Regions from separate parts of the Homo sapiens genome. Here region 2 is linked to region 1. The links come from fine-mapping of genetic effects on gene expression. Tissue or cell type: whole blood. Region 1 holds a variant in brackets; the other region holds the start of a gene. All regions are shown on one strand. Distances are between the middles of the regions.

Evidence for each region. PIP is the estimated chance that this variant, and not a neighbour inherited with it, causes the effect.
Region 2: ATXN2L starts here. The variant in region 1 is fine-mapped to the expression of ATXN2L in whole blood (INTERVAL, PIP 0.90).

What each region holds. Positions count from the first base shown.
Region 1 is chr16:29,014,752-29,019,896 of GRCh38, forward strand. No RefSeq gene overlaps it. Among named protein-coding and RNA genes, the nearest start is that of LAT, 32 kb to the left of the region's middle. The variant G/T (reference allele first, on the strand shown) is at 3,146.
Region 2 is chr16:28,820,272-28,825,416 of GRCh38, forward strand. It overlaps ATXN2L (ataxin 2 like), which reads left to right and starts at 2,728. Exons shown (of 22, transcript NM_007245.4): 1 at 2,728-3,287; 2 at 5,095-5,131. The coding sequence starts at 2,989. It overlaps LOC124903672 (a long non-coding RNA gene), which reads right to left and starts at 3,771. Exons shown (of 2, transcript XR_007065042.1): 1 at 3,623-3,771. RefSeq lists enhancers at 2,007-2,743, 2,255-2,464 and a silencer at 2,785-3,934.

The DNA.
Region 1 (5,145 bases):
AACCTCCAATTCCCCCTGCTATTCTCCAGTCTCAGCTGGACTGTTAAGGTGATTAGGCCCTGAGGACTCTGCCCTCATGCATGGATTAATGTCGTTATTGCCAGAGCGGGTTGTTATAAAAGCAAGTTCAGCTCTCTCTCTTGCTGTCTCCTGCAAATGCTTTCTTGCCCTTCCGCCTTCCACCATGGGCTGACACAGCAAGAAGGCCCTTGCCAGATGCAGGCCCCCAAGCTTGGACTTCCCAGGCTCCAGAAGTGTATTTTTAACAATTTCTTTTTCTGGCCAGGGACAGTGGCTCATGCCTGTAATCCCAGCACTTTGGGAGCCTGAGGCCGGCAGATCACTTGAGGTCAGGAGTTCGAGACCAGCCTGGACAACATGGTGAAACACTGTCTCTACTCAAAACACGGTGGGCACCTGAAATCCCACCTACTTAGGAGGCTGAGGCAGGAGAATTGCTTGAACCCAGGAGGCGGAGGTTGCAGTGAGCCGAGATCACACCACTGCCCTCCAGCCTGGGTGACAGAGCAAGACTCCATCCCCTGCCCCCCAAGTGATCTGCTGGCCTCCATCTAAAAAATAATAATAATACAATTCTCTTTCTTATTAATTACCCTGTCTGTGGAGTTCTGTTATAGTGGTACAAAACAGACTAAGACATATGGATATACCATATTTTGTTTATCCCCTCATCCTTCAATGGCCAGTTGGGTTGCTTCCACCCTGGCTACTGTGAGCAATGCTGCTATGAGCATGGGAGTGCAGCTACGTCTTCAAGATCTAGCTTTTAGGCCAGGCACGGTGGCTCACGTGTGTAATCCCAGCACTTTGGGAAGCCAAGGTGGGTGGATCACCTGAGGTCAGGAGTTCAAGACCAGCCTGGCCAACATGGTGAAAATCTGTCTCTACCAAAAATACAAAAATTAGCTGGGTGTGGTGGTGTGCACCTATAATCCCAGCTACTTGGGAGGCTGAGGTAGGAGAATCGCTTGAACCTGGGAGGAGGAAGACTGAGCTCCAGCCTGCCGGCCTGGGCGACAGAGCAAGACTTTGTTAAAAAAAAAAAATTCTAGCTTTTAATTCTTTTAAATATATACCCAGAAGTGGGATTGCCAGATCACATGGTAGTTCTGTTTTTAACATTTTGGGGAACTGCCATCTTATTTTTCATAGAGGTTGCACCATTTTGCATTCCCACCAACAGAGAACAAGAGCTCCAATTTCTCTATGTCCTTCCCAACGCTTGTTATTCTCTGTTTTTTTTTTTTTTTTTTTTTTTTTTTTTTTGACGGAGTCTCACTCTGTTGTCCAGACTGGAGTGCAATGATGTGATCTCGGCTCACTGCAACCTCCGCCTCCCGGGTTCAAACAATTCTCCTGCCTCAGCCTCCCAAGTAGCTGAGATTATAGGCACATGCCATCATGCCCAGCTAATTTTTTTTTTTTTTTGGTATTTTTAGTAGAGATGGGGTTTCACCATGTTGGCCAGGCTGGTCTCGAACTCCTGACTTCAGGTGATCCTCCTGCCTTGGCCTCCCAAAGTGTTGAGATTACAGGCGTGAGTCACTGCACCCGGCCCTGTTTTTTGATCATAACCATTCTAGTGGGTATAGAGTGGTATCTCATGGGTTTGATTTGCATTTTCCTAAGGATTTGTGGTATTGAGCATCTTTTCATACATTTGTTGGCCATTTGTATATCATCTTTGGAGAAATGCCTATTCAAGTATTTTGCGCATTAAAAATTTATTTTTATTTATCTTTTTAGAGTCTAGAGTCTTGCTATGTTGCTCAGGCTGGCCTCAAACTCCTGGGCTCAAGCAATCCTTCTGCTTCTGCCTCCCTAAGTACTGGCATTATGGGCATGAGGCACCATGCCCAGCCTGCCCATTCTTTAAGTTGGGTTGTTTTGTTGTTGTTGAGTTGTAGGAGTTTTTTAAAAAAATATTTAGGGTATTAACCTGTTATCAGATATATGATTTGCAAATATTTTCTCCCATTCCATAGGTTGCTTTTCACGGGGTTGACTGTGTCCTTTGATGCACAGAAGTTCTGTTTTGTTTTGTTTTGTTTTTGAGATGGAGTTTCACTCTTGTTGCCCAGGCTGGAGTGCAATGGTGCGATCTCAGCTCACTGCAACCTCTGCCTCCCAGGTTCAAGCGATTCTCCTACCTCAGCCTCCCAAGTAGCTGGGACTACAGGCTCTCACCACCATACTCAGCTAATTTTTGTTTTATTAGTAGAGACAGGGTTTTGTCATGTTGGCCAGGCTGGTCTTGAACTCCTGACCTCAGGTGATCTACCTGCCTCAGCTTCCCAAAATGCTGGGATTACAGGCGTGAGCCACCACGCCCGGCTGATGCACAGAGGTTTTTAATTTTGATGTAGTCCTATTTTACCTTTTTTTTGATGTTATTGTTGCCTGTGCCTTTCTTTTCTTTCTTTCTTTCTTTTTTTTTTTGAGACAGAGTTTCACTCTTGTTGCCCAGGTTGGATTGCAGTGGCACGATCTTGGCTCACTGCAACCTCCACCTCCTGGGTTCAAGTGATCCTTCTGCCTCAGCCTCCTGAGTATGTGGGATTACAGGCATGTGCCACCACGCTCAGCTAATTTTTGTATTTTTAGTACAGACAGGGTTTTGCCATGTTGGCCAGGCTGGTCTTGAACTCCTCACCTCAAGTGATCTGCCCACCTCGGCTCCTAAAGTGCTGGGAATACAGGCATGAGCCACCGTGCCTGGCTGCCTGTGCCTTTCTTGGTGTCATATCTAATAAATCATTGTCAAGTTCAGTGACATGAAGCTTTTTCCCTATATTTTTTTTCTAGGCGTTTTATAGTTTTAGGCCTTATATTTAAGTCTTTAAATTTTGAATTAATTTTTGTATATGGCCAGGCATGGTGGCTCATGCCTGTAATCTCAGTACTTTGGGAGGCCAAGGCGGGCAGATCACCGAGGTCGGGAGTTCGAGACCGGCCTGACCAACATGGAGAAACCCCGTCTCTACTAAAAATACAAAATTAGCCAGGCTTGGTGGTGCGCTCCTGTAATCCCAGCTGCTCAGGAGGCTGAGGCAGGAGCATCCTGGAGCCCTGGAGGTGGAGGTTGTGGTGAGCCGAGGTCGCGCCATCGCACTCCAGCCTGGGC[G/T]ACAAGAGCAAAATTCCGTCTCAAAAAAATTTTTTTGTGTGTGTGTACGGTGTATGATAAGGGTCTAACTGCATTATTTGTATGTGAATAGCCAGTTTTCCCAACACCATTTGTTGAAGATACTGCTTTTTCTGCCACTGAATGGTCTTGGCACCCTTGCCAAAGATTATTTAACCATTAATGTGAGGGTGGGCCAGGCATGGTGCCTCACGCCTGTAATCCCAGCACTTTGGGAGGCAGAGGTGAGAGGATCCTTTGAGGCCAGGAGTTTGAGACCAGCCTGGGCAATGTAGTGAAACTAGGTCTCTGCCAAAAAAAAAAAAAAAAATAGCCAGACATGGTGACACCCACATCTAGTCTCAGGTACTTGGGAGACTGAGGTGGGAGGATAGCTTGATCACAGGAGTTTGAAGTTTCAGTGAGCTACAATCATACCACTGTGTGCCAGCCTGGGCAACAGAGTGAGATCTTGTAACAAAAATAATAATAATAATAATAATAATAATAATAATAATAATAATAATAAATGTAAGGATGTATTTCCGGGCTCTCTATTCCATTAGTCTATATCTCTGTCTTTATGCCAAGTACCACATTGTTTTGATTACTGTAGCTTTGTAACACATATTGAAATCAGGAAGTAGTCTTCTTACTTCTTAAGATTTTTTAAACTTAATTTTTATTTTTTGAGACAGGGTCTCACCCTGTCACCCAGGCTAGAGTGCAGTGGTGGGTCCAGGCAATTCTCCTGCCTCAGCCTCCTGAGTACCTGGGACTACAGGTGCTCGCCACCACGCCTGGCTAATTTTTGTATTTTTAGTAGTGACGGGGTTTCACCACGTTAGCCAGGCTAGTCTCAAACTCCTGACCTCAAGTGATCCACAAGCCTTGGCCTCCCTAAGTGCTGGGGTTATAGGCATGAGCCACCTCACCTGGCCTACGATTTATTTATTTATTTATTTATTTTATTTTATTTTTATTTTTTGACACAAAGTCCCTCTCTTGTCCCCCAGGCTGGAGTGTGATGGCATGATCTCGGCTCGCTGCAACCTCTGCCTCCCAGGTTCAAGTGATTCTCCTGCCTCAGCCCCCTGAGTATCTGGGATTAAAGGCACCTGCCACCACGCCCGGCTAACTTTTGTAGTTTTCGTAGAGACAGAGTTTTACCATGTTGGCCAGGCTGTTCTAGAACTCCTGACCTCAGATGATCCACCCTCCTCAGCTTCCCAAAGTGCTGGGATTACAGGTGTGAGCCAATGTGCCCGGCCTTTTTAATTTTTTTTTTTAATTTGGTGTGATATCAGTTAGAATTAAAAAATTTTTTAATTAATATTATTTTGATTGACAAATCATAGTTGTTTACATTTATGAGATACAAGGTGATTTTTAAATTTTTTTTTTATAGAGATGAGATCTAGCTATGTTACCCAGGCTGGTCTCAAACTCCTGGCCTCAAGTTATCCACCCGGCTCCACTTCTCAAAGTGCTGGGATTACAGGCATGAGCCACTGTGCCCAGCTACACACACACACACACACACACACACACACACACACACACACACATATATATAGATATATATATTTTAATAGGCAGTACTCTGTAATCCCAGCTACTCGGTAGGCTAAGGCAGAAGGATACCTTCAGCCCAGGAGTTTGAGACCAGCCTAAAAAAAAAGAAAAGGAAAAGGCAGTATATTCCTGTGGTTCAAAATTCCAAAGGTACTAAAGATTTTAACAGAAAAATCTCTCTCCCACCTGTTCCCTAACCACCAAATTCCTGTCCAAAGTCACAGTCATTCTTATCAGTTACCCAAAGATTTTCCACACTTCTATAAGCAAATGCACGTTTAAGCAAATTTGCAGCCACTTCGTTTTTATATAAATGGTATAATTCCACGCACTGTTTGTATTTTGCTTTTTCGTGTAATGCCGTATCTTGGAGGTTTGACATCATTACCCTAAAACTTACAACCTTGTGCATTGTTTTTTTTTTGTTT
Region 2 (5,145 bases), 190 kb before region 1:
TTTACTTCCTTTCATTCCTGCTCTAAAACTTTTTAATAAACGTTCACTCCTGCTCTAAAACTTGCCTCTGTCTCTCCCTCTGCCTTATGCCCCTTGGTGGAATTCTTTCTTCTGAGGAGGCAAGAATTGAGGTTGCTGTAGACCCCATGCAAATTAGCTGCCACTAGCAAGGGCAAGGCAAGCTATGGAGAAAGAAGTTTCATGGGGCTAAAACTCAGAATTTGAGTGTGGAGCAGGATGGGGTAGATGGAAGGGGGTTAGAGTGCTCAGTGCTCACAATCTGTCAATGAGGGTAGAGAGGTGGCATGGCATCAGGTGGTCCAGGTAATGCCAGGAAAAAGCTGGACTGTGTTTGTTAGGGAACCCAGGAGACATGATGACCTTTAAAACACCATTTGGGCTGGGCGTGGTGGCTCATGCCTGTAATCCCAGCACTTTCGGAGGTCGAGGCGGGTGGATCACCTGAGGTCGGGAGTTCAAGATCAGCCTGACCAACATGGAGAAACCCCGTCTCCACTAAAAATACAAAATTAGCCGGGTGTGGTGGTGCATGACTGTAATCCCAGGTACTCAAGAGGCTGAGGCAGGAGAAACGCTTGAACCCGGGAGGCGGAGGTTGTGGTGAGCCGAGATCGCGCCATTGCACTCCAGCCTGGGCAATAAGAACAAAACTCCATCTCAAAAACAAACAAAAAAACATCATTTGGATCCACTCACCTTACAGATATTTCATTGAGTGCCTGCAGTGTGCTAGAGTACTGCAGAGCAAGAAATAAGTCAAGATCCTAACCCTTAGGGAGCTGACATTAGCAGGAAGACAGAATTAAAGGAGCTGTTAGAATACAGTGGGATAAATTGCTCGGCGAGCACACAGGAGGGGAAACTAGCACATCTGAAGGCAGGAGCGAGGCAGGGCGAAGGACTATTACCCAAAAAGTAAGGCAGTGTTGTAGCTAGGTGTGCATGTGTTTGGTGCAGGGGCTGGGAAGAGTTCCAATGCTAACATTTAGAGCGAAGAGATTGAGACATTGAGAGTTTCGCTGGGATTAAGACCACATGGACTTAACAGCTCCACTCCATTCTCCACGTTGCAAAGAGTAAACCTTTAAAAATGCAAATCTGACCTCTTTTCACTTGTTTTTTTGTTTGTTTTGGGGGGAAGGAGTCTTGCTCTGTCACCCAGGCTGGAGTGCAGTGGTGCGATCTGGGCTCACGGCAACCTCCGCCTCCTTGGTTCAAGTGATTCTCCTGCCTCAGCCTCCTGAGTAGCTGGGATTACAGGCATGCACCACCACGCCTAGCTAATTTTTGCATTTTTAGTAGAGACAGGGTTTCACCATGTTGGCCAGGCTGATCTCAAACTCCTGACCTCAAACCTCCCAAAGTACTGGGATTACAGACCATGCCCAGCCTCTTTTCACTTTCTTAAATAAGCTCCCCACTGCTTTGAGGATAATGTCCGTGTCTCTTACAAGACTTGGGAGCCTTTAAAACCTGATCCCAGATTAGCTACCTCTTCCCCCCTTTAATTTTATGCTTAGGACAAGCTGAGTTTTTCTTAGTTTGTCATATCCTATTTCCCTGCCTAGAAACCCATCTCCCCCTGCCCTCTTATCAGTTTTTTTTTATAATTTAAATTTTTTTTTTTTTGTAGAGACAAAGTCTCACTTTGTTGCCTAGGCTGGTCTCAAACTCCTGGCCTTAAACGATCCTTCTGCCTCGGACTCCCAAAATGTTAGGATTACAGGTATGAGCCACTGCGCCCGGCCCTCCTGTCCCTTATCTGGGTCTCCCAAAACTGGATTAAGATTAGGTGTCACTCCCATTTGCTCTTGTAGTCCTCTGTGCTTCACCTACTAGATCTCGTCAAATTCTCTGAATTCACCACTAGCATGAACTCCTCCAGAGCAGGAAGCAGTTTAATTATCCTTGTGTCCAAAACAACTAACTGAATACTCCAATGCCCAACTCATTTTGAATGAATGAAGCTGCCTTCATTGCAGGGTCGGGTGGAGGATTTTGAACTCGGAACTTTGGCCTTCAGTCTTTGTTATTACAGTTTAAAGATTCATTCTCGGGCATGGAGGAACAATTTAGGTCAAAATCACAAAAATCTGAAATAATTTAGGACGAGGCGTAAATTTATCTGCAAAGATCAACACGCTCAAACGAATCACTAATGCTCATCAGTCTTTTACTTAAAGCAAACAAGGTGGAGGGTAGCTCCTTGCGAAACCTACCACCTGCCTAAAAGCGCAGTGGCTCGGGTGGTCCAGTCCCGGAGACTTTCTTGGCACTTAAGGCTCTGCCCACGGGCCGCCAAGTGGCGGAAGAGCCTCACGCACGACGTGCCGCCTCACACTCCCGCGGAGGCATCGCGACGCAGCGACGGCGTGGGCGGAGAGGCCGGCCCTTCCTCTGGCGCCTTCGGCTCCTCCCCCTGCGCCTCACACGCTCATTGTGAAGCGACAGCGGCCGCCGGCTTCTAAGGCGGTTTGAGACCTTAAGACCCTAAATCCTTGGCGCGCGTGAGCGCCCGCGCCGCTCCTTACCCACTCCCAGGGCTAGGGGTGCGAGGTTCACCGACTTGATTCTCTCCCACTTTCCCGCCGGGAGCTAACCGCGCCGGTGTGCGCGGCACCTCGCGCCACTGCTCGCTCCTGGCCCCCCCCCCCCCCCCCCCCCCCCGGGAGCTCCCACCCGCGCGCTCCTCCCTCTCCGCTCCCCGGCGACGCGCACGCGCGCCAGCCCGGCTCGCGCCCTCTCGCTTTCCTCCAGCCGCGAGACCCCCTCCCCTTCCGCCTCGCGGCGCTTCCTCGCGCCGCGGTCTTCTCTCTCCACCCCCGACACCGCGGGGCTCCCCCCGCCCGCCCACGGCGGGCCCCGGCTGCCCGATCCCCCTCGCTTCCCGCGCTCTCCAGCGGGGCCCCAGCCCCGGCCCCCTCTCTCCCTCCCTTCTCTCTAATTCCCCTTCCGGACGCTGCCATCATGTTGAAGCCTCAGCCGCTACAACAGCCCTCCCAGCCCCAGCAGCCGCCCCCCACGCAACAGGCCGTGGCCCGTCGGCCCCCCGGGGGCACCAGCCCTCCCAACGGCGGCCTCCCGGGGCCGCTGGCCACCTCTGCGGCTCCTCCCGGGCCTCCAGCGGCCGCCTCCCCCTGCCTGGGGCCTGTGGCCGCTGCCGGGAGCGGGCTCCGCCGGGGAGCCGAAGGCATCTTGGCGCCGCAGCCGCCGCCGCCGCAGCAACACCAGGAGAGGCCGGGGGCAGCCGCCATCGGCAGCGCCAGGTGAGAAGGGTGGGCTCCGGGCGAGGGAGCCGCGGCCACCCAGAGGCTGTGGCTCGGTTCCGGTGGGGCGGACCCCGACCCGGCACCGTCAGGGGCACCGGCTGGGTGGGGAGTCCCCGTGAAGCTGGGGGAGGGCCCCCTCAGGTCCGAACAGGTCGGACGGAAAGGGTCCCCGGGCGGCCACCGGAGCACTGAGGGGCCGCGCTCGGCTCTCGGGGCCTAGTCAGGGCTCGCAGCCCCGGCCTTCAGGGGAGGCGGGGCGCATCCCGCCGGCGCCGTCGGAACGGGGAGTTGGGGGGGGGCAAGGAGCTGATCGGGGTCCCCGGTTCCATTACCACGAAGGGTCTCGCGGTCCCCGGCTTCAGCCAATGGGGAGTCTGCTGCGGGAAGGGGTCCCCGGCCGTAGCCAATGGAGGGGGGCGCGCGGCCCACAGTTTGGCCAATGGGGAGGGAGGGACTTGGGAGCGGGTTGCTGCCTCCCCCTTCCCGGTCTGGCCAGTAGGAGGGGAGCGAGGTGGGCGGGGGGACGGAAGGAGGGATGACTGGGAGGACTGCGGGCCGGGAGCCTCTGGCGCGCGCGCCCCCTTCCCGTACGTGCGCGTGGATGCTCGGTCTCATGACCCGGGCATTCGCGCGCCCCGGGAACACCTAGGGCAGGGACTAGTTCGTGGAGGGGCTCGTCTGGTGGCAGTGCATGAGTAGTGGAGGCCCTGCTCAGTTTTTCCTGTGCGAGTGTGTGTGTGTTAATGGAATTAAGAGTGGCAGCACACGCAGGCGCAGTGGGCTCTGATCGCTGGAGGTGGGGGTTCGGAAAGTCCCGTGGGTTTTAGTGCGCAGGCGCAGACCGGGCGAGGCCTCCCGGTGGATGGCTTTTGCGGCTGCGCTGTCCCCCAGCCCCGCCAGCGGCCCCCTCTTCGCCCTCAACCGCCGGTTACATCAGCCAGCGACGAGCAGGGTTACCTGGCGATTGGTGATCCCCGCAGAGTGGGTAACGGGCTGAATGAGTCATGAGGTCGAGGGGATGGGGTGTGGAGGGGATACCCCTCCTCCCACAGTTTTGAGGCGTCAGGCTGCTGAAAATGATTGTCTTTTCTGTTTGGGAGGTAATGTACCTGAGCTAGGTAGTTCCAAAGCTGCACTCCTGGAGCTTTTGCCCTCACAGCTGGCGTGGCTTTTTGGTTAATACTGTAGCATTGATCTGTTGGTAGCCTGCAGCCCTAGCCCCTTTCTCGTTGGTTCTTAGAGCAATTGACAACCATTGTTGATTGAGATCTTTTTGCTGGCATTTGGAGGAAATGTGTTTGCTGGCTTATTAATGTCTATTTTTTTCTTCCTCTACAAGGTGACAGTTTGAAAATCTTATTTATTGGCCGGGCGCAGTGGCTCACGCCTGTAATGCCAGCACTTTAGGAGGCAAAGGTGGGAGGATCCCTTGAGCCCAAGGAGATCGATACCAGCCTGGGCAACACAGATGGGAAATCCCATCTCTACTAAAAATTAAAAAAAAAAAAAGCCAGGAGTGGTGGTTCGTACCTATAGTCTCAGCCACTCGGGAGGCTGAGGCAGGAAGATCACTTGAGCCTTGGAGGTTGAGGCTACAGTGAACTGAGATCACGCCACTGCACCCCAGCCTGGGCAACAGAGGGAGACCCTGTCTCAAAAAAAATAGAAAAATCTTACTGATTAACAATTTTGTAGTCTAAATCAGCATCATCAGGTGGTATATACTTCTAGGATTTAACATTAATTTCATAGTGGTCTAAGAGGGCTTGAACAGACTTAAGTAATTTCTTGTTTTCTTTTATAGGGGACAGAGCACAGGAAAGGGACCCCCACAGTCACCTGTGAGTGTCTTCTC